4 separate regions of the Homo sapiens genome follow, and all the other regions are linked to region 2. The links come from fine-mapping of genetic effects on plasma protein levels. A gene starts in region 2. Each other region holds a variant in brackets. All regions are shown on one strand. Distances are from middle to middle.

What was found. PIP is the posterior inclusion probability: the model's chance that the variant is causal. Protein levels are from antibody-based Olink assays in UK Biobank. Linkage for the fine-mapping came from a reference panel and not from the study's own genotypes, which makes the PIPs less certain.
Region 1: its variant is fine-mapped to the plasma level of the SPARCL1 protein (UK Biobank, PIP above 0.99).
Region 3: its variant is fine-mapped to the plasma level of the SPARCL1 protein (UK Biobank, PIP above 0.99).
Region 4: its variant is fine-mapped to the plasma level of the SPARCL1 protein (UK Biobank, PIP above 0.99).

What each region holds. Positions count from the first base shown.
Region 1 is chr4:87,482,062-87,490,167 of GRCh38, reverse strand. It overlaps SPARCL1 (SPARC like 1), which reads left to right. Exons shown (of 11, transcript NM_004684.6): 8 at 7,608-7,744. Among named protein-coding and RNA genes, the nearest start is that of SCPPPQ1, 15 kb to the right of the region's middle. The variant A/G (reference allele first, on the strand shown) is at 3,148.
Region 2 is chr4:87,525,213-87,533,318 of GRCh38, reverse strand. It overlaps SPARCL1 (SPARC like 1), which reads left to right and starts at 3,943. Exons shown (of 11, transcript NM_004684.6): 1 at 3,943-4,274. LOC124900729 (a long non-coding RNA gene) reads right to left here. Exons shown (of 2, transcript XR_007058171.1): 2 at 6,824-7,966.
Region 3 is chr4:87,507,448-87,515,553 of GRCh38, reverse strand. The region is part of intron 1 of SPARCL1 (SPARC like 1); the gene reads left to right. Among named protein-coding and RNA genes, the nearest start is that of SPARCL1, 18 kb to the left of the region's middle. RefSeq lists an enhancer at 4,169-4,669. The variant A/G (reference allele first, on the strand shown) is at 4,814.
Region 4 is chr4:87,416,405-87,424,499 of GRCh38, reverse strand. It overlaps NUDT9 (nudix hydrolase 9), which reads right to left and starts at 1,927. Exons shown (of 8, transcript NM_024047.5): 1 at 1,488-1,927. The coding sequence starts at 1,594. RefSeq lists enhancers at 1-57, 58-561, 1,105-2,039, 2,109-2,158. The variant G/C (reference allele first, on the strand shown) is at 4,035.

The DNA.
Region 1 (8,106 bases), 43 kb after region 2:
CTGAACACAAAAATTATCAACTGGAGAAACTTAAAAAATAAGAACTCTCAGGCCTTAACCGTAGGAGATTCTGATTTAACTGAACTAGGTTGGAATCCTGACATTGTTTTTTTTATTTGTTTTTGAAGTAACCTAGACAATTCTAATGTGCAGCCAGGGCTCAGAACCACTATGATAATGCTATCCACTTAATCACAGAGTTGAATCACTGGAATTTTGCTACATTATTTGCCCTCTTCCCAATTTAAGTTAAGCCTTTGCCAAGAAGTCTCTGACAACACATTTTTCCAGAAGTGTTTTAAGGCTGTCTTCCTTCCCCAGGATATTCTCAATTGTGTTTGGCTCCCCTTACCACTAAGTGATTCTCCACATTAGCAGTGCTCACTAATGTTTCCGGGTCTCCTCCCCTTCCAGACACAGGAGAGGATGAAACATGTCAGCCTCCTGGACGTTAGGTATGACCATATATCTTGCTTTGTCCAGGGAAATGTGAAAAAAGTCATCTATGTGAGTTCTGGGCAGAAGCATTCAAGAGCTGGGGTATGGTTCTCCATCCTCTGCTCCTTTGCCACCACAAACTCTCTTTGAGATAGTGGCCTCAAAAAATGGCAACGTCATTGGTGGCTGGCAAGATGGCCAAATAAGGACCACTCTGGTTTGCAGCTCCCAGTGAGATCAACGCAGAAAGAGGGTGATTTCTGCATTTCCAGCTGAGGTACCCAGCTCATTGGGACTGGTTAGACAGTGGGTGCAGCTCACAGAGGGGGAGCCAAAGTAGGGTGGGGTGTTGCCTCACCCAGTAACTGCAAGGGATCGGGAAACTCTCTCCCCTAGCGAAGGGAAGCTGTGAGGGACTGTGCTGCGAAAGACAGTGCATTCTGGCCCAGATACTACGCTTTTCCCACAGTCTTCGCAATCCACAGACCAGGAGATTCCTTCGGGTGCCTACACCACCAGGACCCTGGGTTTCAAGCACAAAACTGGGCCACCATTTGGGCAGACACCGAGCTAGCTACAGGAGTTTTTTTCCATATCCCAGTGGCACCTGGAATGCCAGCAAGACAGAACTGTTCACTTCCCTGGAAATGTGGCTGAAGCCAGTGAGCCAAATGGTCTAGCTCAGTGGATCCCACCCCCACAGAGCCCAGCAAGCTAAGATCCACTGGCTTGAAATTCTTGCTGCCAGCACAGCAGTCTGAAGTTGACCTGGGATGCTTGAGTTTGGTGGGGGGGAGGGGCATCCACCATTACTGAGGCTTGAGTTGGCGGTTTTCCCTTCACAGTGTAAACAAAGCTGCTAGGAAGTTCGGACTGGGTGGAGCCCACGGCAGCACCAGAAAGCCACTGTAGCTAGACTGCCTCTCTAGATTCTTCCTCTCTGGGAAAGGCATCTCTGAAAGTAAGGCAGCAGCCCCAGTCAGGGGTTTATAGATAAAGCTCCCATCTCCTTGGGACAGAGCACCTGGGGGAAGGGGCGGCTGTGGGCAGAGCAGACTTAAATGTTCCTGCCTGCCAGCTCTGAAGAGAGCAGCAGATCTCCCAGCACAGCACTCAAGCTCTGCTAAGGAACAGACTGCCTCCTCAAGTGGGTCCCTGACCCCCATGCCTCCTGACTGGGAGAAACCTCCCAGCAGGGGTCGACAGACATCTCATACAGGAGAGCTCTGGCTGGCATCTAGCAGGTACCCCTCTGGGACGAAGCTTCCAGAGGAAGGAACAGGCAGCAATGTTTGCTGTTCTGAAGCCTCTGCTGGTGACACCCAGGCAAACAAGGTCTAGAATGGACCTTGAGTGAACTCCAGCAGACCTGCAGCAGAGGGGCCTCTTAGAAGGAAAACTAATGAACAGAAAGGAATAGCATCAACATCAACAAAAAAGATATCCACACAAAAACCCCATCCAAAGGCCACTAACATCAAAGACCAAAGGCAGAAAATCCATGAAGATGAGGAAAAACCAACACAAAAAGCCTGAAAATTCCAAAAATGGGAATGCCTCTTCTCCTCCAAAGGATCACAACTCCTTGCCAGCAAGGGAACAAAAGTGGATGGAGAATGAGTTTGAGGAAGTGACAGAAGTAGGCTTCAGAACATGGGTAATAACAAACTCTTCTGAGTTAAAGGAACATGTTATAACCCAATACAAGGAAGCTAAGAACCTTGAAAAAAGGTTAGAGGAATTGCTAACCAGAATAACCAGTTTAGAGAAGAACATAAATGACCTGATGGAGCTGAAAAACACAGCACGAGAACTTCGTGAAGCATACACAAGTATCAATATCCAAATCGATTAAGTGGAAGAAAGGATATCAGAGATTGAAGATCAACTTAATGAAATAAAGCATGAAGACAAGATTAGAGAAAAAAGAATGAAAAGGAATAAACAAAGCCTCCAAGAAATGTGAGACTCTGTGAAAAGACCAAACCTACATCTGATTGGTGTACCTGGAAGTAATGAGGAGAATGGAACCAAGTTGGAAAACACTCTTCAGGATATTATCCAGGAGAACTTCCTCAACCTAGCAAGACAGACCAACACTGAAATTCAGCAAATACGGAGAACACCACAAAGATAATCCTCACGAAGAGCAACTCCAAGACACATAATTGTCAGATTCACCAAGGTTGAAATGAAGGAAAAAATGTTAAGGGCAGCCAGACAGAAAGGTCGGAATACCCACAAAGGGAAGCCCATCAGACTAACAGTGGGACTCTCTGCAGAAACCCTACAAGCAAGAAAAGAGTGGGGGCCAATATTCAACATGCTTAAAGAAAAGAATTTTCAAACTAGAATTTCATAACCAGTCAAACTAAGCTTCATAAGTGAAGGAGAAATAAAATATTTTACAGATAAGCAAATGCTGAGAGATTTTTTCACCACCAGGCCTGCTTTACAAGAGCTTCTGAAGGAAGCACTAAATGTGGAAAGGAAAAACCAGTACCAGTCACTGCAAAAACATACCAAATTGTAAAGACCATCGACACTATGAAGAAACTGCATCAACTAATAGGCAAAATAACCAGCTAGCATCATAATGACAGGATCAAATTCACACATAACAATATTAATTTTAAATGTAAACGGGCTAAATGCCCCAATTAAAAGACACAGACTGGCAAATTGGATAAAAAGTCAAGACCCATCAGC[A/G]TACTGTATTCAGGAGACCCAGCTCACATGCAAAAACATACATAGGCTCAAAATAAAGGGATGGAGGACTATTTACCAAGAATTGGAAAGCAAAAAAAAAAAAAAAAAAAAAAAAAAAAAAAAAAAAAAAAAGCAGGAATTGCAATACTAGCCTCAGATAAAACAGGCTTTAAACCAACAAAGATCAAAAAACACAAAGAAGGGCATCACATAATGGTAAAGAGATAAATGCAACAAGAAGAGCTAACTATCCTAAACATATATGCACCCAATATAGGAGCACCCAGATATATAAAGCAAGTTCTTAGAGACCTACAAAGAGACTTAGACTCCCACACAATAATAGTGGGAGACTTTAAAACCCCACTGTCAAAATTAGACAGATCAACAAGACAGAAATTAACAAGTATATTCAGGACTTGAACTCAGCTCTGGACCAAGCAGACCTAATAGACATCTACAGAACTCTCCACCCCAAATTGACAGAATATACATTCTTCTCAGCACCACATTGTACTTATTCTAAAATTCACCAAATAATTGAAAGTAAAAACTCCTCAGCAGATGTGAAAGAATGGAAATCATAACAGTCTCTCAGACCACACTGCAATCAAATTAGAACTCAGGATTAAGAAACTCACTCAAAACTGCACAAATACATGGAAACTGAACAACCTGCTCCTGAATGACTACTGGGTAAATAACGAAATTAAGGCAGAAATAAGGAAGTTCTTTGAAACCAATGAGAATGAAGACAAAATGGGCCAGAATCTCTGGGACACAGCTAAAACACTGTTTAGAGGGAAATATATACCACCAAATGCCCATAAGAGAAAGCAGGAAAGATCTAAAATTGACACCCTAGCACCACAATTAAAAGAACTAGAGAAGCAAGAGCAAACACATTCAAAAGCTAGCAGAAGACAAGAAATAACTAAGATCAGAGCATAACTGAAGGAGATAGAGACACGAAAAACCCTTCAAAAAATCAATGAACCTAGGAGCTGGTTTTTTTAAAAGATTAACAAAATAGATAGACAGCTAGCCAGACTAATAGAGAAGGAAAGAGAGAAGAATCAAATAGATACAATAAAAAATGATAAAGGGGATATCACCACTGATCCCACAGAAATACAAACTACCATCAGAGAATACTATAAACACCTCTATACAAATAAACTAGAAAATCTAGAAGAAATAGATAAATTCCTGGACACATATACCCTCCCAAGACTAAATCAGGAAGAAGTTGAATCCCTGAATAGACCAATAACAAGTTCTGAAATTGAGGCAGTAATTAATAGCCTACCAACCAAAAAAAGCTGGGGACCAGACAGATTCACAGCTGAATTCTACCAGAGGTACAAAGAGGAGCTGGTACTATTCCTTCAGAAAGTATTCCAAACAATAGAAAAAGAGGGACTCCTCCCTAGCTCATTTTATGAGGCCAGCATCATCCTGATACCAAAACCTGAAGGATATACAAAAAAAAAAAAAAATTCAGGCCAATATCACTGATGAACATGGATGCGAAAATCCTCAATAAAATACTGGCAAACCAAATCCAGGAGCACATCAAAAAGCTTATCTACCACAATCAAGTCACCTTCATCCCTGGGATGCAAGGATGGTTCAACATACGCAAATCAATGCGTGTAAGCCATCACATAAACAGAACTAATGACAAAAACCACATGATTATCTCAATAGATGCAGAAAAGGTCTTCAACAAAATTCAGTATCCCTTCATGCTAAAAACTCTCAATAAACTAGGTATTGATGGAACATATCTCAAAATAATAACAGCTATTTATGACAAACCCATAGCAAATATCATACTGAATGGGCAGAAGCTGGAAACATTCCCTTTGAAAACCAGCACAAGACAAGGATGCCCTCTCTCACCACTCCTATTCAACATAGTATTGGAAGTTCTGGCCAGGGCAGTCAGGCAAGAGAAAGAAATAAAGCGTATTCAAATAGGAAGACAGGAAGTCAAATTGTCCCTGTTTGCAGATGACATGATTGCATATTTAGAAAACCCCATCATCTCAGTCCAAAATCTCCTTAAGCTGATAAGCAACTTCAGCAAAGTCTCAGGATACAAAATCAATGTACGAAAATCACAAGCATTCCTATATACCAATAACAGACAAGCAGAGAGCCAAATCATAAGTGAATGCCCATTTGCAATTGCTACAAAGAGAATAAAATACCTAGGAATACAACTTACAATGGATGTGAAGGACCTCTTCAAGGAGAACTACAAACCATTGCTGAAGGAAATAAGAGAGGACACAAACAAATGCTCATGGATAGGAAGAATCAATATCGTGAAAATGGTTGTACTGCCCAAAGTAATTTATAGATTCAATCCTATCCCCATCAAGCTACCACTGACTTTCTTCACAGAATTAGAAAAAAACTACTTTAAAGTTGGGAACCAAAAAAGAGCCCATATATCCAAGACAATCCTAAGCAAAAACAACAAAGCTGGAGGCATCACGCTAACTAACTTCAAACTATACTACAAGGCTACAGTAACTAAAACAGCATTGTACTGGTATCAAAACAGATATATAGACCAATGGAACAGAGCAGATGGCTCAGAAATAATGCCACACATATACAGCCATCTGATATTTGACAAACCTGACAAAAATAAGCAATGGGGAAAGGATTCCTTATTTAATAAATGGTGCTGGGAAAACTGGCTAGCCATATGCAGAAAACTGAAACTGGATCCCTTCCTTACACTTCATACAAAAATTAACTCAAGATGGATTAAAGACTTAAACATAAGACCTAAAACCATAAAAACCCTAGAAGAAAACTTAGGCAATACCATTCAGGACATAGGCATGGGCAAAGGCTTCATGACTAAAACACCAAAAGCAATGGCAACAAAAGCCAAAATTGATTAATGGGATCTAATTAAACTAAAGAGCTTCTGCACAGCAAAAGAAACTATCATCAGAGTAAACAGGCAACCTACAGAATGGGAGAAAATTTTTGCAATCTGTCAATCTAACTAAGGGCTTATACCCAGAATCTACAAGGAACAGATACAAATTTACAAGAAAAAAACAACCCCATCAAAAAGTGGGTGAAGGATATGAACAGACACTTCTCAAAAAGAAGACATTTATGCAGCCAAAAAACATATGAAAAAAAGCTCATAATCACTCGTCATTAGAGAAATGCAAATCAAAACCACAATGAGATACCATCTCTCACCAGTTAGAATGGCGATCATTAAAAAGTCAGGAAACAACAGATACTGGAGAGGATGTGAAGAAATAGGAACGCTTTCATATTGTTGGTGGGAGTAAATTAGTTCAATCATTGTGGAAGACAGTGTGGCAATTCCTCAAGGATCTAGAACTACAAATACCATTTGATACAGCAATCCCATTACTGGGTATATACCCAAAGGGTTACAAATCATTCTACTATAAAGATGCATTCACACATATGTTTATTACAGCACTGTTCACAATAGTAAAGACTTGGAACCAACCAAAATGCCCATCAGTGATAGACTGGATAAAGAAAATATGACACATATACACCATGGAATACTATGCAGCCATAAAAAAGGATAAGTTCATGTCCTTTGCAGAGACATGGATGAAGCTGGAAACCATCATTCTCAGCAAACTAACACAGGAACAGAAAACCAAACACTGCATGTTCTCACTCATAAGTGGGAGTTGAACAGTGAAAACACATGGACACAGGGAGGGGAACATCATATACCAGGGCCTGTCAGGGGCTGGGGGACTAGGAGAGGGATAGCATTAGGAGAAATACCTAATGTAGATGATGGGTTGATGGGTGCAGCAAACCACTATGGCATGTGTATACCTATGTAACAAACCTGCACATTCTGCACATGTATCTCAGAACTTAAAGTATAATTAAAAAAAAAAAAAAACGGCAGTGATCCTGAGCTCTGGGGAGACTGCAATGAGCAGAGCCCTCCTGCCAACTTGTATTGGACTTGTAGCAGGATTGCAAAATTGACTTCTGTTTCTTTAAGCCACTGAGATTTAGCATTATTTCTTACTGTAGTATCAGCTAATAGCTACCTTTTTCTCTATTCAATAGCACTTGTGCCCTCCACCTACAAATTTCAACTCTGATTCTACAGCAGTGATTCTGGGGCCTAGCTGCACATCCAAATAGATCTTGGAGCTTTAAAAACATCCTGATGCCCAGACTTCACGCCAGACCAATCACATCAGAATTTACTTGATTGGAAGCTGGCATTTGGTATGTTTTTTAAAACCCCAGGCAATTTTGTTGTGCTGCTGCCAGGGCTGAGGACCACTGTCATAATAATGGGGACCTGAGAAAGCTCTGTCAGTTGCCAGAAGTCGTTAAGCTTCCTATTATGAGGACTTGCCATAGGACACAAATAAGCCCAAAGATTACAGTACATTTTCTGCTTGTAACAGCTATTCCTACTTGTACGGACTTTGAAGTGATTCAGTTTCCTCTACGGATGAGAGACTGGCTCAAGAATATCCTCATGCAGCTTTATGAAGCCAACTCTGAACACGCTGGTTATCTAAATGAGAAGCAGAGAAATAAAGTAAGTTATCCACAGGTTAGCTTCTTCAATGTCTGTCTACAGGGCATGAGGAAGAAAGACGTGGTGGGGGGGCTACCTACCTCTGCATACTGGCAAAAGCCCACTATGCTTCCCCATGCCCGGTTAGCCCATGTGGCTTAACAGAATAATAGATGTCACCATTCACGCCACAAGGTTTCAGACACCACCAAACCGCCCCATTCTTCCCAATGGTCAGTGGCCTGAATTAGGGCTCTTCAATTCCTACCTAGAGCAAGCTCTGGTTGAGCAAAGTTAATATAAATTTAGCATTGATCTAGTCAGTCCAAACATCTTATTTAAATCTAAGCATTTGTTTTGTTCTCATAGGCCAGACATAGATG
Region 2 (8,106 bases):
TATAATGTGTAATGTATAAACATAATGTGTAATGTGTAACATAATAATGTCCACATTATATTTAACAAAATATTGTGCACATTTTGCTACTGTCTTACTCGTTAATTGCTCTCTGTGTATCAAGCCTATGCCTAAGACCAAATAGAGGGTATGACTAAACCCATAGAAGGGCTGGCCTGGGAAAGGATAGCTAGAATAAACTCCTGCAAGAGTCCATAGTCAGAAAATGACCCAGAGGGTTAATAATCAACACAGAACTGAGAGATCTGAAATTGTTCAGTGTCAAGTTATGATGGTACTGTGGGGGTAAGGAAATTCCACAGGCAGAGATCAGTAACTCACCTGGAATTGAGACCTCAAGATGGGTCCCAGAAGCAAGACCCACAGAGAACTAAATATCAAGGTATTAAAAACATAATGGGAAAAATATTTTAAGTGTAATGGGGTGTTATGGGCTGAATTATTTCCCCCAAAATTCATAAATTGAAGTTCTAACCCCCATTGTCACTATATTTAGAGACAGAGCCTTTAAAGAGGTAAATTAAGGTTAAATGAAGACGTAAACGTGAGGATCTAATCCAACAGCACTGGCGTCCTTATAAAAAGAGGCAGAGACACCAGAAGCACACATGCCCAGGGGAAGGACTGTGTGAGGACACAGTGAGAAAGTGACCATCCACAAGCCAAGGAGAGAGGCCTCAGGAGAAACCAACCCTGCTGGCACCTTGATCTTGGACTTCCAGCCTCCAGAACTGTGAGAAAATTAATTTCTGCTGTTTAAGCCACCCAATTTGTGGTATTTTGTTACGCCAGCCCTAGGAAACTAATACATTGGGTAATCAAGGAAGAGGGTCCTACAGGCCAGGTCCTGGCCAAGATCAATACAGACACTCTGTTTTTACTGCAGCTTTTTCACTCACCCATACTTACCTCCTTCCTGGGGATCTCCACTATTCCAAAAGAATCATGTGACCTCTGACAATGAGCATATGCCTTGGCTCTTGGACTCCTAATAGGCAGGAAGTACATCTTTGATATCACCCAGAGGCTTCTGCTATATGTAACAAAGAAGTTCTGTATATGCTTGAGGATTAATTAACGTGTTCTCTGCTCCTTCCCCTGAATTAGGGGTTTTTAACTTCATAGAATCCCTGAGAGGATACTGGGGGGGAGTTTCATAGATGGGTTTTAGGAGCTTGCCCACAGCTTTCATCAGATTCTCAAAGGGAATCCTAACACTAAAAGGTAAAAAAAAAGAAAAAAGAAAATCCATTTAGATGTTGACATCTGTCACATCCTCTGACCAACAGTGATGTTACGTCTCTTCATGTACAGTAACATAATGAGCTTTTTGTCAAACTTTTCCCAACCCATTTGGACGTCTCATACGTTTTCTAAATCTGATCTGTAGCTCCATCTGTTAGGTGAGTATTGTTGCAGGTTTATTGTCCTCAGCTTTCTGAACTGTAAACTATTTTAGAAAAAACAGCTTCAGAAACAATGAGAGTTTGAATATCTGCCAACAAACATTTCCAAATAAAGCTATACTGAAAAGACACCGCGAATTCAAAGGCCTTTTTTTATTCATTTTTCTCTCTTGTTTTGTTGTAAGAAATACAGTGGGTCTTTATTAATCATGTTATAAATTAATAAGACCTCCAATAAAACTGAAAGTCAAAATTCTCAAGCTTTGCCACCTACAAATGAACTCTCTAGGTACCTATTTACATTTAAGAGATGAATCCAGTTTGCTTTAAGTAATTACTTTTTAGGTTAACACAGTTACATAAGAAAATTTATTTTGATCATTTTACAGAAGCATAAAATATCAATTTTAGCAGAAAAAAATTTTAGTCGGGTAACTTTTTTTCCAGAGCCCTTTAAATGAAATTTTTTTCTACATTCTCGTTGAATTGATGTAATCACCTGAAATCAATCTTACAAAGCCATCTTAAATAAATGGGGAATGCTAGTTAGAATAAGAAGTTAATATTTTGGGTCCCCAAGAAAATTTTCTTTAGCCAACTAAGGCCAAATCCTCAGAAATGCTTTTCTTACTTATTCTGCAATAGTCTCACTGCTCCCAAGCCCCTTGGGAGACTTGGAAAAATGGTCTGTGTCTTCCACACTTCTCAGAGCAGATGTGCACAGAGGATGTGCACACCAGGGAGAAGCATGGTCAAACACTGCCCACCCCTTTATCCTTCCTCCGAGGAGATTGCTCAACCCCTAGACCTTGGCTAAGGAAAAACATCCTATTGTCTGAGGCAAAAAGACATCAAGTCCTTTCATGCTGTCCTGGGAAAGGCGGTTTGGAACAAGTTATCCTGATTCTAGAGACGTGAGTGTTCCCAGCTGCACCGTGACTTGTTTTTGGCTCCTAGGCAAAGTGCCCAGTTTCCTCTGCTCCCAAATTTCTCCAACTGCAAAGTAGAGATAATCCTTGTTACCTTTTTCTTGCAGTGTTCTGAAAATAAATAGGGCAAATAATTCTAAAGTGTTTTGAGAGATTTGGCTGAGGGCATATTTGCCTAGAAATGTAGGTGGGGGTTTTTGGTTTATTTTGGTTTTATTTTGTTTTTGTCAGTGTTTTTGCTTTTGGCCAGACGTTGGCATGCATTTAGAAAATCTAAATTAAATTAAATTAAATTATAATTATTCATCTGATGATAATGGAACATTTACAGGATGCAAAGCACTGTGCTAGGCACCAGGAGAATGCAGAAAGGGCACATCCCCTTCCTTCAAGGAGTTTACAGCTTTCTCAGAAGCAGGTATGATATATATATGTGTCTATATCACATAATAGAGGGATTATAGATAAGTTACACAAGTGTGGCTGTCAGCCATGGTAGCTGATTTGGAATCCCATCCTGTAAGTTACAGTTGGATACCCTAGAAAAAACACCCTTACTAAGCTTTGGTTTCCTCTTATGTAAATGATAATAGCTAACATTTATTGAGTGTCTGCTACGTGGCAGGGGTGTTCTATGCAGTTTATCATGTTAACTAACTTAAAACTCAGAACAATTGCAGAGATAGATATTATCATCATTTCCATATGTATATCCCTGTCTTATAGATAAAAGCACTGATGCTTTAGAGAGGTTATATAACTTGTCCCGGGTCATAGTTAGGAAGTGGTGAAGATAGGATGCAAATCCAAGCTGGCTGGCCTCAAATTCTGCCAATCCAACCACTGTATGACACTACCCCTCAAATGGGAACACAGTAAAACTTACCATGCGTAGTGAGGATCAACTGATAATAACGCATAAAAAGCTGTTAGCACAGTGTCTGACACATAATAAATGTGTGATAAATGTAGAAGTAGCAGTAGAAGAGATTAGACACATACAAACAACCAGAATCCCGGGCCAAAAATAAGTGCACACCTCCATTCTTTTTATGGGAAACCTCCTTCTTAGATACCAACCATTATAACCATGGAGTTACAGTGGAGAGCTGTGTTGAGGGGAGAACTGCAACATTTCTGAATCAGCATACAAGTGATCTATAATATAAGGAGCAATCATTTTTATATATGTCCATTTCCAAATCTCATTCAAAGAAGGTTAAGGTATCTGAAGTACCCTTCTATTAAAATTCAGACTGTATTTGCTAGAACAATTTCCAATTGAGCAACGTAAAAATGCATCTGCTGCCATTTCTCTTCTTCCCTCCTTTAATCCCTACTCCCCAATTTCCTTTAGAAAGAAACAACAGCATGGAGTTTCTTTTCAAGGTCTTAAAATAAAAATCTCCAAAAAAGGGATGCTGCTTATAAAACCTTTCAGAGTTGTTTGAAAAAGAAAAAAAATGCATAAAGAGCCAAGTGCTTATATTCTGGCCAAGTTATGAGGCTCTGAGAACAAGAGCTTGAGGGGAAGACTGTTAACCCCATCCACGCCACCAGAATTAGCTCTTTCCCTTTTGGTTTGCAAGCACTGCCTGTAAAGCCCTCGCATGAGAGGCCAGCCTGCTAGGGAAATCCAGGAATCTGCAACAAAAACGATGACAGTCTGAAATACTCTCTGGTGCCAACCTCCAAATTCTCGTCTGTCACTTCAGACCCCCACTAGTTGACAGAGCAGCAGAATTTCAACTCCAGTAGACTTGAATATGCCTCTGGGCAAAGAAGCAGAGCTAACGAGGAAAGGGATTTAAAGAGTTTTTCTTGGGTGTTTGTCAAACTTTTATTCCCTGTCTGTGTGCAGAGGGGATTCAACTTCAATTTTTCTGCAGTGGCTCTGGGTCCAGCCCCTTACTTAAAGGTAAGTTGTAATAAATTTACGGCATTATCTAATTGCATTTGTTAAGCTGATTTGCGTGATCTGATAAAGCTGTCAAATATTTTTGCCTAAATAATACAAAGCCATTTATTTACCAAAAAAAGTTTTGTGTGATTTACAGAAAAGATACTTCATAGAGAATTTTACCATTTGTATTCATGTTTTCTTGTTTCCTGCGAAATTAAATAGCAAGTACTAATAAATGATGGTGATTTTAGTGAAGACCAAGAATAGAAATGTGGAACTGTTGATCGCCTCAGTAGCATTCAGATCTTAGTGAAGCCTGAATCCTGAAATGTGTTTTGTAGAAGTACTTTATTACATATATGAAATAAACTATAAAGAAGGTAGTTTTTAAAAAAAATTTCAAATCAAATAATTTGTATGTTTTCCATGTTTAAATTATCTAAAGTTATTCAATCTCCTGAGCCTAACAGCAATGTAGAAACGGAACTTTTTGCTTTTCCAAAAGGTAGGAAAATTTCTCCTTTTATACTATATTCTTGTTTGATTATTTTTAAGTTATTGCGATTATTTTCCCTTTCTTGGTTCCCTTTTACAGCTTTATAACTAATTATTTTTTGCCTCCTACTATCATTTGTTAAGATGCTCACACATAGACCTAAAATTTCTCTAATTCTTGATAATGTCTTATTTACAAAAGCAAAAATGGGAGAAGAGAATTAAAGAGCTAAAGAGATTATGGTAACTCATATTATAATGTACTACCATTTCTGGCTCTCTTTTCTAAAATAAAGCAATAATGTAGGTTGTGCTTATTCATCCTTCCCAGGTATTAAAGGTCACTCTGCAAGAGAAAAAAAGAAAAGAAAGGAAAAGAAAAGAAAAAAAAACATGCTTTTAACTGCAGATCAATACTGTTGAAACAGTACACCAAGAGGTACTGCAGAAAGAGTATCTCTTTTGCACTGCCTTTAATCTGCAAAGAGGTTAAATATGTCACCTTGGCATTGTATCTGAGCTCTCCTCTGGCCCAGGGCCTAAGCACATTGAATAGAAATGTTCACTCAGTCCAAGTCAGCAGAAATCTTTTTTTTTTTTATTCTCCCCTTTCTCGTAGACACCAGCTTTTTTCAGTTCACAGCTTACTCAGTCAAACCTGATGGTTGTGACTATTGTTAACTATGATTTTTTTTTTATTCAAAACACCCTCTTTGGAAAGATTTAAGTTAATATTTCTGTTCATTTAATAAGATCTAGCAAAGCAGAGCAGTTTATTTCATCTACTTATCGTCCAATCAACTAGTGCCACTTTCCACATTTTGGAGAAGAATATTCACATGTTATTTATGAACCTTGCCTTTTTCTTTCAGAGAATTTTTCACACAGCCATTGAGCAATTAGAGTGCTGGCATTTCCTTCCTAGGTCTTTTGAGATTTAATCCCCAGTAGCTCCTCATGGCACAGATTCACATATCAACTAAGTAAAAATAATAGTGATGACAGAAATAAAATGAATAGTGATGCATCTGGACAACTTGAAAACATTATTTATTTCATTTCCTCTTGACTGTTCTTTTTACTCAGTTGACTTAAACACTGCTATTTTACTTAAGTTTAGCACCATATCCAGAACTGGTTGGGAACATTTTTCTACCGAGAAGGGCATAAACAACTTGTTAGAAGATCTGAAGTGCACATAGTCCTCACTTATCCCTCTAGAATGATCTTCAGTGGAGAAGGAGACCCCCATAAATAAATCCAGTAGAACTTCCCAGTAGGCCTGGCTTCCTGAGAGATGTCCAACCAGGCCAGGGTCTGTTTCTTACGGGGCTCACAGGGCATCTTCTGCCAAAGGCTGAGTTAGCGATGATAGCATTACCTAGGGCTAGCCTGGCTTTTGTCTTAGTCATCAAAAGATGGATAGAACTTTGAAAAACAGAGTGCATGGTCTTGATGATTGTTCCAAAGGTGGGGAGGCAATCTAATAAAGTGAATAAGGCCATGACCTGTGGTTTATATCTGACCATATGGACCCTGTTTATATAAGACCGTGGTTTATATCCAAGCTTTACCACAAAATAGCTCTGTGACTTTGGGCAAACAACTTCATCTCTTTGTGCCTCAGTCTCTTCATTCATGGAAATGGGATTATAAAATCAGTAGCTACCTCAGAGATTTGTTGTAAGAATTAAGTGAAGAAAAGAGCCATGTTTGGTACATTAAAGCAATCAATCAATCGTAGATAATATGAAAGTACTGGACTAACTATATGTCCCTATTGAAACTCCGTAGAACGGGAACTGACTCTAGATATTTTCTCAGGGTTTCTTCCTTGTACTTATACGTTTTGCTCTATAATAAAATATGAATGCCAGGTGTATGCCTCTGAGGCAGCACAGCAGAGTGGACAGAGCATGGGCTTCAGAGTCCAATGCATCTGGGCTAGAATCCTGACTCTGCTTCTTACAATCAGTGTAAGCTTTGGCAGTTACTTCCCACCTGCATGACTCAGTTTACTCATCTGTTTAGCAAAATGGGGATAATAATACACACAAATGAGGTCGTTGTAGGAATGAAATGTGATGTTTATTAAATGCCAAGTATAGCACCTGGCAGAGAAGTAAACACATAGGAAAGTTGACTGGTTGCTCATAAGGAATCTCGTATATCAGTGAGGCCTCTGTTACATACTTGCAATGATTTCTCTGGTAGTAACAATGGAGATCAAGAAGGAAATATTCTTTGAATTGCCTTTTTTATCCAAAGAAATGTAAAAGTAAATCGGACACTACTATTTTCCCCTGGTGGGGGGCCTCAACACGAGGTATTTATTACTATGAGACTTCACTGCTGCATCAGTTAGTAGCTTCTTAATGGCCAAGTCAAAGGAAACCAAAGAAAGTGTTCTATGCCAGCTTGCCATTACACAGAGTGAGAAGAAATGCTGCTTTGCTGTCAATTCTGTTTTATTGGCCCACTTGGACAAGAGGGAAAGCCCCCAACATTTCTTCTTTCTTATCTCTTCTAAAGGCAAGAATAGGGCTTTTGACTTGCTCCAGGGGATATTTTTTCCTCTCTAACTGAAATTCAAGTGAAAGAGTCTTTTTTTTGTTTTTTTGTCTTTGTTTGGTGTTTTTGTAAACCTCTCCCCTATGTTCCTAGCATTGAAATGTAAGCTGCTTTTTCTGGCTGCATGTAGCAGGAGCAGGCTGTCGTCATAGCAATGAAAGGGTGTAGAGAGACTCCTGCTTCATGACCTGCTCTGGGAAATAACTCTTAGTCTGCTTTAAAATCCTTCTTTAGAAATGAAGTCTCCAGTCCTGGCTTGTTTCCTTCCTATTACACAACCAACTTATGTACACCCATTGCAGTAGCTAAATGTTTCCTTTAAAGATTTAGTGAATAGGTATTTTAAAAATCAACAAGAGAGCTGCTAAAACAGTGGCTAGTTTACTGTGGCATACAGGGGAAAAACAACTGGGAAGGCAAAGAAAGAGAAATAGAAATGGCCTCACATGATACACATACTGCAGCAAACCCTGCAATAAATCCATTTTTCAAGTTCCCACTGCTTCCTCCCATCTTCACGATGTGCTATGGTGTAGTGGTTATAGAGGGGAATTCTGGGGCAGACTGCCTGGACTTGAATCCTGGCACTCATACCTTCTAGTTGTTTTAATCTAATCCATTCTGTGCCTCTGTCTTCTCATCTGTGAAATAGATATAATAACAGTCATAAAATTGTCATGGGAATTGAATGAGATTGAGCATGTAAGGCATTTATTACAGTATCTAACCCATGGTAAAGGTTGGCTGCTAAGCTCAGGAGCCTCAGTTTCCCCCACTTGTG
Region 3 (8,106 bases), 18 kb after region 2:
CCTCTCTAAATCCATAAAAAGAAACAGTGGGATGAAGAAAAGAAAGAAATAACCTAAGGACTCTAGTAAAGGGATGAATTAAAGTGTCTGAATTATTCATTATTGGGGTTATTAAGCCATTTTCTGCCTTATGCATGTTTCAAAGATATGATAACATCTTTCATTTCATTTTTACAGTTGGTGAAATTACCAAATAACTATAGGATCACATTTGAATCTCAAAACAACTCCAGAAGATAGATAAGAAAATGTAATATTACCTTTCCTGTTTTGTAGATGAAGAAACCAGTGACTTGATCAAAGTCTCTTAGCTGGTAAAAGGCAGTTCAAGTCTGGAACTTAGATCTTCCAGTTCCGTACCAACTGTCCTTTAAACTATGCAGCTGCCTTTGAATAAGCTCACGCATTTGAGCAAAATAATATTGATTTAGTTTCACATCAATACTGCATATTTAAGTCTTTGAGAATAATAATTCTGTGAATTCCAAAATTTGTCTCATTTTTGCATTTTTCATCTGGAGTTTTATTTTCTATTTCTGCAAAAATAATCTGTATTTTGTAGTCAGTGCACACCAAACTCGAATGTCTCAAAATAAATGACTTTTTACTCATCCAAGAATAAATGGTATTCATCATACTTAGCAAGGACATCATGGTTTTGATTTTTCAAAGTACTTTGCAAGCATCAGCTAATTAAGCCTCCCTGAGTCTTCAGTATGACAGTTGTTTTCAAAATATCTCTCATTTCCCAGGAAAGTTCTCCATTCTGTCTTATTTATACAATCAGCACATTTGCTCAGTTCTTAAAATAAGAAGCTAAAGGCCATGAAATTATTTTTGATCAATATGTGGCAAATACAATTAGCTCAGTGAGACAAAAATGCCCAGTGACTAGTCTAAAGGACAACGTGGAACACAATGGAAGAACACAAGGCGTTTTAAAGTCTAGATACTGGATTGTCCCACAAGGTCCTTCAAAAATAAAACACAGGCATCTTCTTTATAATTGAAACTTGAAGGGGTTTCCTGCTTGGATCATTCTAAATGACATGACCATACTCTGCGTTTAAATTTTGTTTTCAATTACAGGATGGAAAAAAACTCTTAAAAAATAGTTCCATCTTTGGACTCAGTAAAAATCAGGGACCATTCAGTAAATGTTGGCTCTCAAAAAGCCTGCACAAGTGGCCATCTGAGGTTATATGACAATCCCTAGACTTGTTCTATGCCTTAAAATATCTTCCATACAGCTACGCCAGGATTCTCAGCATTCGATAGCTCTTTTTGGGTTAAGAACAATGTGAACATACCTCTTACCTGAGAATAGAAATACATTAATTCAGGAATAATCTTTTTTCTTTTTTTTGAGATGGAGTCTCACTCTATTGCTGGAGTGCAGTGGCTCAATCTTGGCTCACTGCAACCTCCACCTCCTGGGTTCAAGAAATTCTCCTGCCTCAGCCTCCCAAGTAGCTGGGATTACAGGCTCATGCCACCACGCCCAGCTAGTTTTTGTGTTTTCAGTAGAGACGGGGTTTCACCATGTTGGACAGGCTGGTCTCGAACTCCTGACCTCAAGTGATCTGCCTGCCTCAGCCTCCCAAAGTGGTGGGATTACAGGCATGAGCCACAATGCCCAGCCCTAATTCAGGAATATTCCTATTTCCTCGGTATGGTTTAGATGCATGCAAAAAACAAAGATTTAAAAGTATAGAATATAGGATAGGTGAGTTTGTGTTTAATGAGTGAACTAAAAGTAAATATGTTCTGGAACTAGCTCCTGGGAAGCTTGAAATCCCCTAGGGGAGGAAGATACGGAAAAGGGGAGGAGAAACACTAAGGTTCTTTTCCCTTATATCACACTTAATACAAGACATATGTAGTTAATACAAGATATAAATGACTCTAATGATATTACTGATGACAGGCAGCAGGCAGAACAATGAAAATAATAATCATTTGCATGTGTAAGGTACTTCAGAGTTTGCAAAGAGCTTCCTCACCTCACCTTGCAAGGAGCTACCTTTGACATCGGAAGGAACTGGTATTCCCATCCTATATATGAAGTTTGGAGAGAGAAAGTAATTTGTTCAAGGTAGTATTTAGTACTTGGCAAAGCCAGGGCCCAAAGCCAGAACTTCTGGCTTCTAGTCTGTAGCCTGTTCACTAGTCTGTTTGGGGAGAATATTGGATACTGAGTCCAAAGCTCAGCGTTTCTAATTCTTGCCCACCTCTTAAGCCTTGTACATTTGGCCAAATAATTTAGACTCTTCAAATTTCTGTTTCTTTACATTTAAAAATTCTGTCCCTCCTTTCTTCATTGAATCAAATGAGACAGTATATAAGAAAACACTTTATAAACTGTGAAATGCTAAATAAATACAAGGAATGTATAACTAAATCCATCTTAATAAGTTAATATTCCTTGGAACCCTGCCTCAAGACATCCTTACAGTTAAACTTTCCTCCCTTTTGTGTTAAAGAATAAAGAGTTCCTCCTTCTCTTTGGAGTTAAACCTTTCACATGTGCTTTAATAGTAGACCAGTAAATATGTATCCAGGATTTACCAAGATGGTATTGTCTCACTTAATCTTCATACTATTTTATAGACAATGAGCTGAAGCCCCCAAAAGCTACACAATTTGCTTATTTACGCAAATTAAGTATTACAGCCTATGACATCCTGTTTCAGAACTTATGCCTTTAATTGTTATGAAATATTGTCTTGCTAATGGTTTTGGCAACTGGTCTGTTTTGCCTTATTTTGGTTTTCGGTTGCTGTAAAACAGTATGCTCTCACATTAAATGGCTTAAAATCACATCCCTGTATTTGCTCATAATTCTCCAATCTGGATTGGGCTCCACTGCATGATTCTTCTGCTGATTTTGTCTGGAGTTAATTCATCTGGCTTCAGTGAGCTAGGAACACATCTGGGGCTGAATCATCCAGGAGGGTCTGTTATCCTGCAAGGTTCCAGCCACATGGTCTCTCATCATTCAATAGTCTGGGTCAAGCTTTTGTACAGCATGGCTGATAGCTTCCACCAAGAGGAAAAACTCCAATGTGCAAAGGTTTACCAAGTTTCTGCTGGCATCATGCTTGCTAATGTCACATTGGTCAAAGCAAATCACAAGGTTAAGGCCCACATCATAGGGAAATGAAGCCCAGAAGTTGTGGTTTACTGGGGGTCATCATTGTTTACCATTATCTCCTCTCTTACCCTTTATCTTCAATTTTTCCTTATTTACCTGTCTTTTCCCTTCAGCACAGAAGGGAAATCTGGGGCCGGGCATGGTGGCTCATGCCTGTAATCCCAGTACTTCCAGGGGGCTGAGGCAGGTGGATCACCTGAGGTCAGGAGTTTGAGACCAGCCTGACCAACATGGTGAAACCCCCATCTCTACTAAAAATACAAAAAAATTAGCTGGGTTTGGTGGCGCATGCCTATAATCCCAGCTACTCAGGAGGCTGAGGCACGAGAATTGCTTGAACCCTGGAGGTGGAGGTTGCAGTGAGCCTAGATCACGCCACTGCACTCCAGCCTGGAAAACAGAGTGAGACTCTGTCTCAAAAAAAAAAAAAAAGAGAAAGAAAGAGGAAAGGAAAGGAAAGGAATCTGAATGATCACATTCAAATACAAATATAAATTTCCTGTAACTGCATATTCCCTTTAAGCTACCACGTTACTCTCCTTTGCACAGCCAATCATTTTTAGAGTGGTCTACACTCACTGCCCTCACTTCATCACTGCCTGTTCATTCTCCAATCACTGCAGGCTGGCATCCACCGACACCACAGCAACAAAACTGCTCTCCCTGAGATCCTCAATAACCTCTGCACTTCCAGAGGCAATGGATAATTTCCTGACCTTGTTTGCTTTGAACTCTCTGTGACATTTAACACTTCCCTTTTCTCATGTGACTCTTCTTTCTCTCACTGTTTGTATCTTTAGCTCTTCCCATCCTCTGATGGTGCCTAATGATCTTCACTCCCCAGGGTTCTGGCTCCAGCTCTCTGCTCAACTGGTTGAATAACTGCTCATGCTACAGCATGCAAGCTACATCTGTAACCCCAAACTCCATGCTTACCTCCAGACCTATCTACCCAAGTATCTACTAGATATCTCTACTCAAATTCAACAAGCCCAAAACTAATCCACCGTCTGTCTTCTAAAACCAAACCTTCCTCCTATAATCCTTCACCTTGGTAATTAATACCACCATTTACTAAGTTGTTCATATGAGAAATGTGACTCAAGACTTTTCCTTCTCATATTCCTACAATATCTAATTCGTCATTAAGTTTTATCTGTTCTTTTTTTAATTATTTCTTAGAACTATCCAGTTGTGTTTTGGTAAATGAGCAACCCATTCTCTGAGAGAGGGAGAGGTGGGTGACACTTGATGGTTTTCATGGTGTGACTGATCCTCCCACCACAACTGATTTTGATGCAGGATATTTTCTTGACCCCTTCACGGAACTCGCGGCAGGGGTGCCTTGTTTACTCAGCCCGCCCTGCTCAATCCCTTGCAGGAGGGAGTGCGCAAGCGAATGACTGCAGGAACCTGAGCGAGCGAAGGCAGGAACTGGCCACTTTGGCACCAGCAGGAGCAAACTCCATGTGGGCCCCTCACCAGCGTCCAGGTGTGGGCACCAGCCACGCCAAGCCCCAGAGGGCGTGTAACCATACTCTTAGCTCCACCGTCCGCAGACAGCAGTGTGTTATCAGCTCAGTGAGCCCTTTGCCTCATCACGTAGGGCAACTGCCTTCCGCCAGCAAGGGCAAAGGGCCAGTGCGACCGCCTTTTTGG[A/G]TACCTGCACGTAGTGTGTCCGAGTTCTTGTCCAGTGCCCAAGAGGAATGAGGTCACACAGATGAATTGAAGGATGGCGAATGTGGAGAATTTTTTTTTTCAGTGACGAAAGCGGCTCTCAGTGGAGAGGTGAGCTGGAAAGGGAATGGGAAGGGAAGATCCCTCTCCTCTGAAGTCAAGCCACCTCTCTCCTATGTCCAGGCGCTTCTTCTCGACATCAGGCTGCTTCTTCCCTCTGCTGGCTGAGTTCTGGGGTCTTTATGGGCACAGGATGGGGACGGGGCAGGCCGTAGGTAGTTTTGGAAAAGGCAATATTCAATTGGTAAAAAGACAGTATTCAGAAATAACCAATCGGGAGAGAATGGAAGTTCTCACTTTGGGCTGTGGGTTTCAGGCTTTTCGGCTTGAAGGTGGGATTTTGCCAGCGACCCGCCCCTGTATGCCTACAGTTTCTCTGCCTCCTGTTGCTATCAATTTTAAGCTACCAACATGACGCCACTGAACAGAATCGGGAAGAGACATGCGGAACACATATTATATAGTATTTCCACCAACAGATATAATAGATGTAAATAACCTCAAAAGAGTAGATAATAGTAAAATAATTATGAAGTGATGAGTTTCTACTATTTTCTTTGCTTTTAACATAATTAAATTATACATGTATGTAATTTAATTTTTAATTGATGACTTTAACAACCAACTCAAAAAAGTCTTGAAATGTAACAAACAGCTCTCACAAACCAGTACAGGTTGGATCTATCCCTCTTTTCTCCACTCCTAAGACCACAGCCCAAATGTAAGGCTCTGACCACCTCACCTTGATGTTACAATTGTCTCTCACAGGTCATGCTACTGGTCTGTCCTCCACACAGCTGTCACACATACAAATCTGGTTATATCATCACCCCTGTCCACACATGTGTGCACACACACAGACATACACACATGCGTGCACACACAGACACTTACAATAATTCTTTGGGTCCCTATAGCTCTATGGCTGGAATTTTTAATTCCTTGTTTAATGCACTATGACTTTTACAATATGGCTATCTGCTTACTTTTGAGCCTTATCTACCCCAGCCCACTTCCCCTATTGACAGCCTAGAGACCCAAATATTAACATCCTAGAGACTCGATGCTTCTGCAACTTCACCCATGCTGCTGCCTGCCACCCTCTAGAGTACATCTAGCTGTGTGAGAACATCCTTCATACAGCTAACTACTGTTTATTAGTTTTCAAACCTCAGATCAAGAATTACCTTCTCTGGAGGTCATCTCTATACAGTAGTTAAGAACACTGTAGTTAAGAACACAGACAGACCTGATATCAAACAGAAGTGTTAAATATCTGCTGTGCCACTTCCTAGCTGTGTAACCCTGAACAAGTTACTTAATCTTTATGCCCGAGTTTCCTTACTAGTGAAATGATTACAATAATGTGCTTACCTGATAGAACTGTTCAGAAGGTTTAAAGAATATGTGTGTGCAAAGCTCTTAGAATAGTGCCTAGAACTTAAGTACTTTGGATGTAGTAAAGTTAGCTATTATCAACTACCTAATTTAAAAATGCCTCCTATCTCTCTTTCCATTGCATTATGTACATAATCATCACATTACACTATATGATTTTATATAAATATATTATATATTTATAGATACATTATTAGTATATACATATATAGATACGTGTATATAATACATATATAGATACATGTATATAAGTATATAGATTATATATGTACACATATAGTATACATTTAGCCCTCAACCTGTGGGATCTGACACTATCTCCAGGTGCACATACATAGTATATACACATATGTATACTATATATATATATATATACTTATATACATGTATCTATATATGTATATATTTATCTATATACGTATCTACATTACATACATATATGTATCTATACACACACACACACACACACACACACACACACATATGTTTCATCCACGGTTCCTGTCTCATAATTCCCATAGACCTTTTTATAATGTTATAATGTTGGTGCATTTTAGGCCTCATAAGCGGACCTCAGAATAACAGGATTTCTCTCTCTCTAATCTTCTATTTTTTTACCTGCTACTTTTTCTCCCCAAGGCAGGACTCTAATCTTCCTCTGCCTTTACCTACCTTGTGTGATTGTAGGTCATAAGACCCCCATTTCAGAAGGGGTTCTGCCCCATATTCTGGAGGAAGGAATGTTGCATGGAGAGGCCAAGAAGAGGCCCAGCACAGTGATCCATGTCTGTAATCTCAGCACTTTTGGAGGCCAAGATGGGACAATCGTTTGAGCCCAGGAGTTCAAGACCATCCTGGGCAACATAGGAAGATCCTGTCTCTACAGAAAAAAAAAAAATTAATTACCCAAGTGTGGTGGCAATCACCTGTAACCTCAACTACTTGGGAGGTTGAGGTGGGAGCATGCTTGGGCCCAGGAGGTCAAAATCACGCCACTGCACTCCAGCCTCACAGTCAGAGTGAGACCCACCTCAAAGGAAAAAAAAAAGAGGCCAAAAAGAATCTGAACAGATGGGCCTTACCGGGTTTCCCCACTCAGCCTTTGAGTACTAAAGCATACCCTTTTTGTCTAAACACATTTCTATGTGGTTGTCAATGGTGCCTATCCTTTCATGAAGTCTCCATAAAAGGCCCAAGGGGACGAGGTTTGAAGAAATTACAAGATAACTGAACCTATGGAGGTTCCTAGAGGGTGTGTTCCGGGGAGGGCTTGGCAGCTCTGTGCCCCTTCCCCCATACCTCACCCTTTGCATCTCTTCACTTGTATCTTTTTGTAATATCCTTTATTATAAACCAGTAAATCTAAGTAGGTGTTTCCCTGAGTTCTGTGATGCACTCTAGCAAATTAATCGAACCCCAAGAGGGAGTCATGGAAGCCCAACTTGAAACCAGTCAGCCAGAAGTTCTGGAGGCCTGATCTTGTGACTGGTATCTGGGAAAGGGAAGATGTCTTGTGAGACTGAGCCCTCAACCTATGGGATCTGACGCTATCTCCAGGTACACAGTGTCAGAATTCATTTGGAGGACACTCAGCTGGTGCCTGCTGCAGAGTTGATTGCTTGCATGTTGATGACAAAAAATCTCCCACATTTGGTCACAGAAGTCTTCTGTGTTGATTGTAGCGTGGTGTGAGACCACAGGAAAAGCAGTTAGAGATTTTCCACACCCAGAAACTCTTAAGAGAGAAACTATGTGTCCTTGTGCTTAGGCAGTGTCTAGTAAGTACTCAATGAATGAATTTAAAAAAAATGGATTAG
Region 4 (8,095 bases), 110 kb after region 2:
ACGAGGTCAAGAGTTCAAGACCAGATCAGCCTAACCAAGATGGTGAAACCCTGTCTCTACTAAAAATACAAAAAAAATTAGCCGGGCGTGCGCGCGCCAGTAATCTCAGCTACTCAAGAGGCTGAGGCAGAAGAATCGCTTGAACCCAGGAGGCGGAAGTTGCAGTGAGCCGAGATCGCGCCACTGCGCTCCAGCCTGGGCGACAGAGCGAAACTCCTTCTCAAAAAAAAAAAAAAAAAAAAAAACGCATTAGGGAGAAATGCTATTCCTACAAGCTGAGCCGAGCTAGAGGTTTCAAGCTTGAAGTCAGTGGGCCCAAGGATCATAAACTGGCAGCGCGACAATAACCATGGAAATCACTCAGTCCTCCTCCCTCCCCAATCTCCAAGCAAAAAGTCCAAAATAGTTATGTTTGTCTCCAAGATAAAATCAAAAGTTTTTTAGAAATGAAGGGGTAGGACCCCTACTGTGAATACTGGTGTTAAGAGTACACAGCAGAAACTTAGGCTTAATAATTTTACAGTTCACACGGAGGAAATAAACAGCTATACTCAGCAGAGAAGTTGCTCCACCACTACTGCAAAGCCTGAAGCAAAAGGCAGGTTCCCAGTCTACCCATCTGGTACCTGCTCACATGCCCTCAACTGAAACCTTCCTATCTAGGCAACCTGGTACAGAGCCAAAAGTCAATTAGCGACCCATGTACTGAAAACAAGACCTATTACTCATATTAATCAAAATATAGACAGATAACCAGTGCCCATCACATGTTCGAGAAAAAGCAACAGAAGGAAACAGGACCAAAAAGACACAGAACAATTGACCAACAGTAAGTAAATTATTTAGGAAATAGATTTTTCTAATTATCATCTTTGTAGATTCAAGACTTTTAATATCTATAAAATAAGAAAAGGCTGCTGCACCTAGGACCCTGTGTTTACTAACTCAAAGAATAAAAACTGGAGAAGGGAAGAACAGAAGGAGGCAGTGTAAGACACCATAAATCCCTAAATTTAACCACAATAGACAAATTATTAAAAAAAAGGAGGTAGATAGTAAATATAATATATTGTCCACCCTGGAAAGGGGACAGGGGGAATAGTGATTTTACTTTTCATTTTACATTTTCAAGTTGTTTTAACTATGTACATGTATTAATACTAATAATAATGTTTTAAGTATTAACCATAAAAAAATGGCACGGGACACCACCACCCCAAACAATTGCTATTTAAACTCTCTCGTGATACTAACAATGATTTACAGAGAATGGCAAATTTCAAAATCAGAAGTCAAGAAGGGTCCCTGCCACTCGTTTTCCTCAAAAGGCAGATAAAATATTTTAGAGCCTTTTTGAAAACTTGTATATGACTATAAAAACCCGAGAGGCAAAGCAAAGCCTACAGAATACGCCAGAAAAAAAAGCTGCTTCCCACCCCCAACTCAAGGTCTAGGGCAAAGGAGCCGGTAGTAGGAGGGTGGAATACCTGAACGCCTGGATGCCGCGGCAGCGCGAGGACCTGATAGTCACAGAGGCCAAGGCCAGAGAGAGAGACACCGCGGCTAAAGCCTTTCCCAGGAGGCGTCCCGCCATGAGCGCCCCGAGGGCGGCTTTGCGATGCTAGGTCGCTCTTAGTTGGTGCCTCCGCCTCCCCACACCCCACAGCTCCGAGTCCCGGCCGCGGGTATCTGATGGGCACTAGGACCTGTCTGCCGTTGGGTTCCCGAACGGGAGTAGCTGTGCCTATCTATAAATCACAGATCAAGAGCCCTCCCACGATAAGAGTCCACCGCTTTCCCCAGTGCATCGAGAAAAATCCAGACCAGCACGTGACGCCGAAGCCTCCAGCGCCAGCTGCCTGGGGAAACCGCGGCCACGAACCTCGTAACTTTCTCTCTGCGTAATGGCGCTTTACGGCCGCGCCGCAAAGCAAAGGTCGTGCGTTGCCGGCTTGGTAGCGCCTTCCTTCTCCGACTTCCCAGACTTCCCAGTCTGCGCAGGCTTACTTGGGGACGCAGGGAACTACCAAGAAAGTGTCAGAGGAAAGGAAAGGTGAAACAGACGAGGAACTGGAACGGGAATAAGTGGGAAAGAAGCCAAGGGGTTTGAGAGAGACTTGCTGCCCTGGGTTTTTGGTTTTTGTTTTTTGAGACAAGAGTCTGGCTCTGTCGCCCAGGCTGCAGTGCAGGGGCGCGATTTCAGCTCATTGCCGCCTCAACCTCCTGGGCTTAAGCGAGTCTCTTGTCTCAGCCCCCGACGTAGCTGGGACTACAGGCACACACCGCCATACCTGGCTAATTTTTGTATGTTTTGTAGCGACAGATTTTTGCCATGTTGCCCAGGCTGGTCTCCAACTCTCAAGCTCAAATAATCCAACTGTTTGGGCCTCCCACAGTGCTGAGGTTACAGGCCTCAGCCAACGCGCCTGGCCCTGCTCTGGTTTTTTTAGGGAGTAAGTTGTTGCGGAAGGACGCAGGTCTTAGCCATATTTTTGAATAATACTTCGTTATGGGAATGAAACCGCCTTTGCAAAATTATGACTGATTTGGGAGGCCGAGGCGGGATCACTTGCAGTCAGGAGTTCAAGACCAGCCTGGCCAACGTGGTGAAACCTCGTCTCTACTAAAAATACAAAAATTAGCTGGGCATGGTGGTAAACGCGCCTGTAGTCCCAGCTGCTCAGGAGGATGAAGCAGGAGAATCGCTTGAACCCGGGAGGTGGAGGTTGCAGTGAGCCAACGTCGCACCACTGCACTCCACCCTGGGCGACAAGAGTGAAACTACGTATCAAAAAAAAAAAGAAAAAACCTCTGCTCCCTGAATGCTCAGGGAGACTGATTTGAGTAATAATAGAACTCCGGTCTCACACAGCTGGCTCTGCATGAATTACTCTTTCTCTATTGCAATTCCCCTGTCTTGATGAATCAGCTCTGTCTAGGAAGCGGGAAAGGTGAACCCCTTGGGCGGTTACAGCAAGAGGAGATAGTCCAGAGACTCAGCCCTCGTATCTTGAAGGGTTTCTTGGTTTTTTGTTTTTGTTTTCTTAACCAAGTTGTCTGCTCCAATTGCTGGATTTCATTCACAAGGCTTTGCTAGGACCAGTTGTGGCCCTTGGAAACTCGTGGAGGAGAAAAGCTGTGAAAATAGGCACACATGCTGGAGGAGGAACAGAGGGCAACACACATAATACTGGATAATAAACTTGAGAGGCAAAAATTAAACAAACCGACAAACAAAGTTGGAAACCCAGACTGTCCAAAGCAGCTTGTAATCAGGCTTACTTCATTTATATTAGCTTATTGATGTGGCAACTATTTGACTTTTACTTACATGATCCGCTGTTTCTGTGGTGTGGTTCCAATACACCGACGTTACAAAACTTTGACCATCTTAAAAGCCAGATTAATCGAATTTTAACAACCATTGTTCTGAAAACTGCAGAACTCTCGACAGGTATTGACTGTTCAAACTACACTGTCAACCTAGACGCTGAGGCACGAGATAGAACTTAAAGCATTTACTTTAGCCAAAGTGAGGACAGCTGCCCAGAAGACCCAGACCCAAGTAACCTTAAATGTGAACTCCTGTCCACCTTTGTTACAATCAGGTTTTTAAAGGCAAAAAGGGGACAGGGAGTTGACTGATACAAAGTTGTAAAGAATTACTGGTTTGTAGAAATAGTATTGGTTAGTGGTTGGCTATACGTTAAGCTATAGGGTGCGAGTTACAGTGTCCAGTGTACCATTATTAGGTTAATTTTTAGCTACTTGTGGCTATAGTAAGCAGTTTAAAGAGATGAATGCATAACAAAGTGGGGAGTAGGATGTAATTGCTGTCTCATTTTAATGTCTCTCTGGGCCTGGTAATTTAAAAGGATTTACCTTCCTCATATAAAAGTTCTTTTCTCGGCACTGAGAGATTTGATTATACTCTAGCATAGCTTCCAGTAGCTTAAGGCCTTGTCCCTAGGCTGACCCCAGATCCCGTTAAAATGCTTCCCTGAAATCAAAACTCAATGCCTGGAGAATTTACT[G/C]TTTGTTCCAGCCAAAACTTGATGATAGGCAGATAGGTCCCTGAACCCCTTCTTAGAGCAGTCACTTTAGAAAGCTTGTTTCTCTACCCTTGGTGATGTAAGTCTACCACCCAACACAGTTTCCTCAAAGACTTGGGAGCCATCTCTTTGAAATGCAAATATTCAGAAAGATAACTCACCCTAGCTCCTAGTCCCTGTACAAGACCGGTACCTTGCTTTAGCTAGCACCACTGCCTCCTATCATAAAGATAGAAGTTTGTTTCTCCTCTGGATAAGAGCCAGTTAACAAACCCAAATGGCCTAATCACATCAATCAACAAACCACCGTGCCCCCCTGCCACCCCCCAAAACTTAAGATCCTTTTGTGCCTTTCCTTTTTGCATACCACAGCCTTTTGTTTCAGGGAAGTGTGGGATTAGTTTGTATTACACTCTTTTCCCTATTGGACTAGCATCACTGAATAAAGTCTGTCCTTACTGCTTTAACTAGTGTCCAGCTTTGTTTATTTTGACTGCTTTCTCAGGTTGAGAAGTACTATTATTGAAATGTGCATTTTAAAGATAAATATCAGTACTCGGCTTCCTCTGGTCAGATAAACTTTGCTCTCAGTGTTGTTAATCACTGCTTAAACTGGAAATGTATTAGACCGGCTCTGTTCATCAAGTTCAGCGTGTCCAAAGTCTGTTGACAAATTAGTCACTAGAGAAGACAGGAGAAAAGCAGTGAGTTACAAAGTCAACAATCAAAGAAAGGGAGCAACAGAAAGTAGTTCTCACAGGAAGCTCCTCAGACCCTAGTCTTATAACTCCATATTCCCTAAGGGGAGGCTAGCGTGAACTTAGTTTGATGAACCTGTGCAAACAACTGTACAAACAAAACCAATTCCATGGCACTGAAACAAAACTGCAATTAGCTGGGACAGCCAGATCTCCTGGGTTCCTCCCTTCAGGGATGCATACTGCACATCTGCTCAGGTGTAGTGAGTGCATGTTCTGCAACCTGCTCTTGGGTAGAAACAAAACATCTCCTCATCAAATTACCCACATCCTAAATTAGTTAAACAGATGTCATCAGAATTTAAGGAGAAGTAAGGACTTTTTAAAAATTTATGAAGCATATACCAACTTCAAGGGCATCTTGCAATAGTTGGTGAGACAGACCAAGAACACTGAGAAATGAGAATTTTTAAATAGGAAAGTGACATATGTGATTATTAGAATTGATGAGTATGTTAAAAGTAAGAGTAATTCAGAATCCCAACTATTTCCCTGATATAGTTTGGATATTTCTCCCCTCCAATCTCATGTTGAAATGTATTCCCCAGTGTTGGAGGTGAGGTCTGGTGGGAGGTGTTTGGGTCATGAGGGTGGATCCCTTGTGATAGTGCTATCCTTGTGATAGTGAGTTCATGCAAGATCTGGTTGTTTAAAGATGTATGACACCTTGTCCACCTCTTTCTTGCTCCCACTCTCGCCAAAATGTCAGCTCCCCTTTGCCTTCCACCATGATTGTAGGCTTTCTCAGGCCTCACCAGGAGCCAAGCAGATGCCCAGCACCATGCTTCCTGTACAGCCTGCAGAACCGTGAGCCAATTAAACCTCTTTTCTATTGGGGGAACTCACCCCCAATATTTCAACGTAGATTGTTTCTATTTTCCATAAGTGTCAGACAGCTGAGAAATAAAGAGAAAGAGTACAAAGAGAGGAATTTTACAGCTGGGCTGCCGGGGGTGACATCACATGTCGGTAGGACCATGATGCCCACCTGAGCCGCAAAACCAGCAAGTTTTTATTAAGGATTTCAAAAAGGGAGGGGGTGTATGAACAGGGAGTATGTCACAAAGATCACATGCTTCAAAGGGCAAAAGGCAGAACAAAGATCACATGCTTCTGAGGAAACAGGACAAGGGCAAAATCAGAACTCCTGTTAATGGTCTATGTTCAGCAGTGCACATATTGCCTTGATAAATATCTTAACAGAAAACAGGGTTCGAGAGCAGAGAACCAGTCTGACCAAAAATTCACCAGGAAGGAGTTTCCCAATCCTAGTAAGCCTGAGGATACTGCCAGAGACCAAGGCGTATCTCAGTCCTTATCTCAACCGCATAGGACAGACATTCCCAGAACGGCCATTTATAGACCTCCCGCCAGGAATGCATTCCTTTCCCAGGGTCTTAATATTAATATTCCTTGCTAGGAATATTAGTGATAAAGAATTTAGTGATATCTCTCCTACTTGCACGTCTGTATATAGGCTGTCTGCAAGAAGAAAAATATGGCTCTTTTTGCCCAACCACGCAGGCAGTCAGACCTTATGGTTGTCTTCCCTTGTTCCCTAAAAAATCGCTGTTATTCTGTTCTTTTTCAAGGTGCACTGATTTCATATTGTTCAAACACACGTTTTACAATCAATTTGTACAGTTAACACAATTATCACAGTTGTCCTGAGTTGACATACATCCTCAGCTTACGAAGATAACAGGATTAGGAGATTAAAGTAAGACAGGCATAAGAAATTATAAAAGTATTATTTGGGAACTGATAAATATCCATGAAATCCTCACAATTTATTCCTCTGCCACAGCTCCAGCCGGTCCCTCCGTTCAGGGTCCCTGACTTCCCACAACACTTTTTTTTATAAATTACCCAGTCTCAAGTATTTCTTTCTTTTATTCTTTTTTTTTTTTTTTTTTTTTTTTTTTTGAGATGGAGTCTCACTCTGTCACCAGGCTGGAGTGCAGTGGCGCGATCTCAGCTCACTGTAACTTCTGCTTCCTGGGTTCAAGCGAATCTCCTGCCTCAGCCTCCCGAGTAGGTGGGACTACTTGGCCCATGCCACCATGCCCAGCTAATTTTTTGTATTTTTAGTAGAGATGGAGTTTCACCATGTTGGCCAGGATGATCTTGATCTCTTGACCTCGTGATCTGCCCTCCTTGTCCTCCCAAAGTGCTGGGATTACATGTTTGAGCTACCGTGCCCGGCCTCAAGTAGTTCTTTATAGCAATGCAAGAATGGCCTAACACATTCTCTTTTTTTTTTCTGCATTTATTTAGTCATTGTAAACAAACATTCTCTGAAAAGGAATTTGGAGGAAAGAGACTTTATTCCAGTGAACAGTTTGCAAACCAGGGAAACACAGCCTTTGGTATAAAACAGAAGTGTGCTCCAGAGAACAGAGAGACGGTTTGGATTTTATAACCAAAATTGCCACCCAGATTACTAACTAGGTCTGTTTACACAAATGAGGGATTCAAGCTAGCTTAATTCTGATTGGTTGGCACAGCTGAGCTTATTGGTTGGTTCAGGTGAGCTCTGTAAATCCCAAAGTTCAATAGAGGTGTGAGTTTTCAGTGAACTCAGAGTATGTGGGTGACCTTTAGTAGGCAAATGGCCACTTGGCTCTGTTTAAAATTTGTTAGCCACGTGGGATCCATCTTAAAGGATTTCCTCTTTCAGGTTTGCATTTATTCACATTATACCATAATGACGAATAATACTATTTACCAAGCATACCACCCCAGGTGCCATGAATACAGTTGTGAACAAAATGGACAAGGTCTTACTCTCATGAAGCTTACTTTATATGAGAGGGAAATAAACATTAATAAGTAAACCAATAAACTAGGAATTCCAGATTAGGAAAATTGTTGTGAAGGAAATAGATAACTGCTGAGGGACAGGATAGTTGAGGGAGAAGTGACTACTTTAGATTGCAGGGGAAGGATGTCTTTTCTGATGAGGTCACTTTTGTGCAGAGACCTAAGGACATGAAGCTGCCAGTCATTGAAAAAGCTAGGAAAAGAGCATTCAAGGCAGATAAGACTGTACCTTGAAAAAAAGATCTGAGGTAGGAAAGAAATAAAAATAATAATCAAGGAGGCTGGGCACAGTGGCTCACTCCTGTAATCCCAGCACTTTGGGAGGCCAAGGCAAGTGGATCATCTGAGGTCAGGAGTTCAAGACCAGCCTGACCAACGTGAAACCCCTTCTCTACTAAAAATACAAAATTAGCTGGGCGTGGTGGTGGCTGCCTGCAATCCCAGCTACTCAGGAGGCTGAGG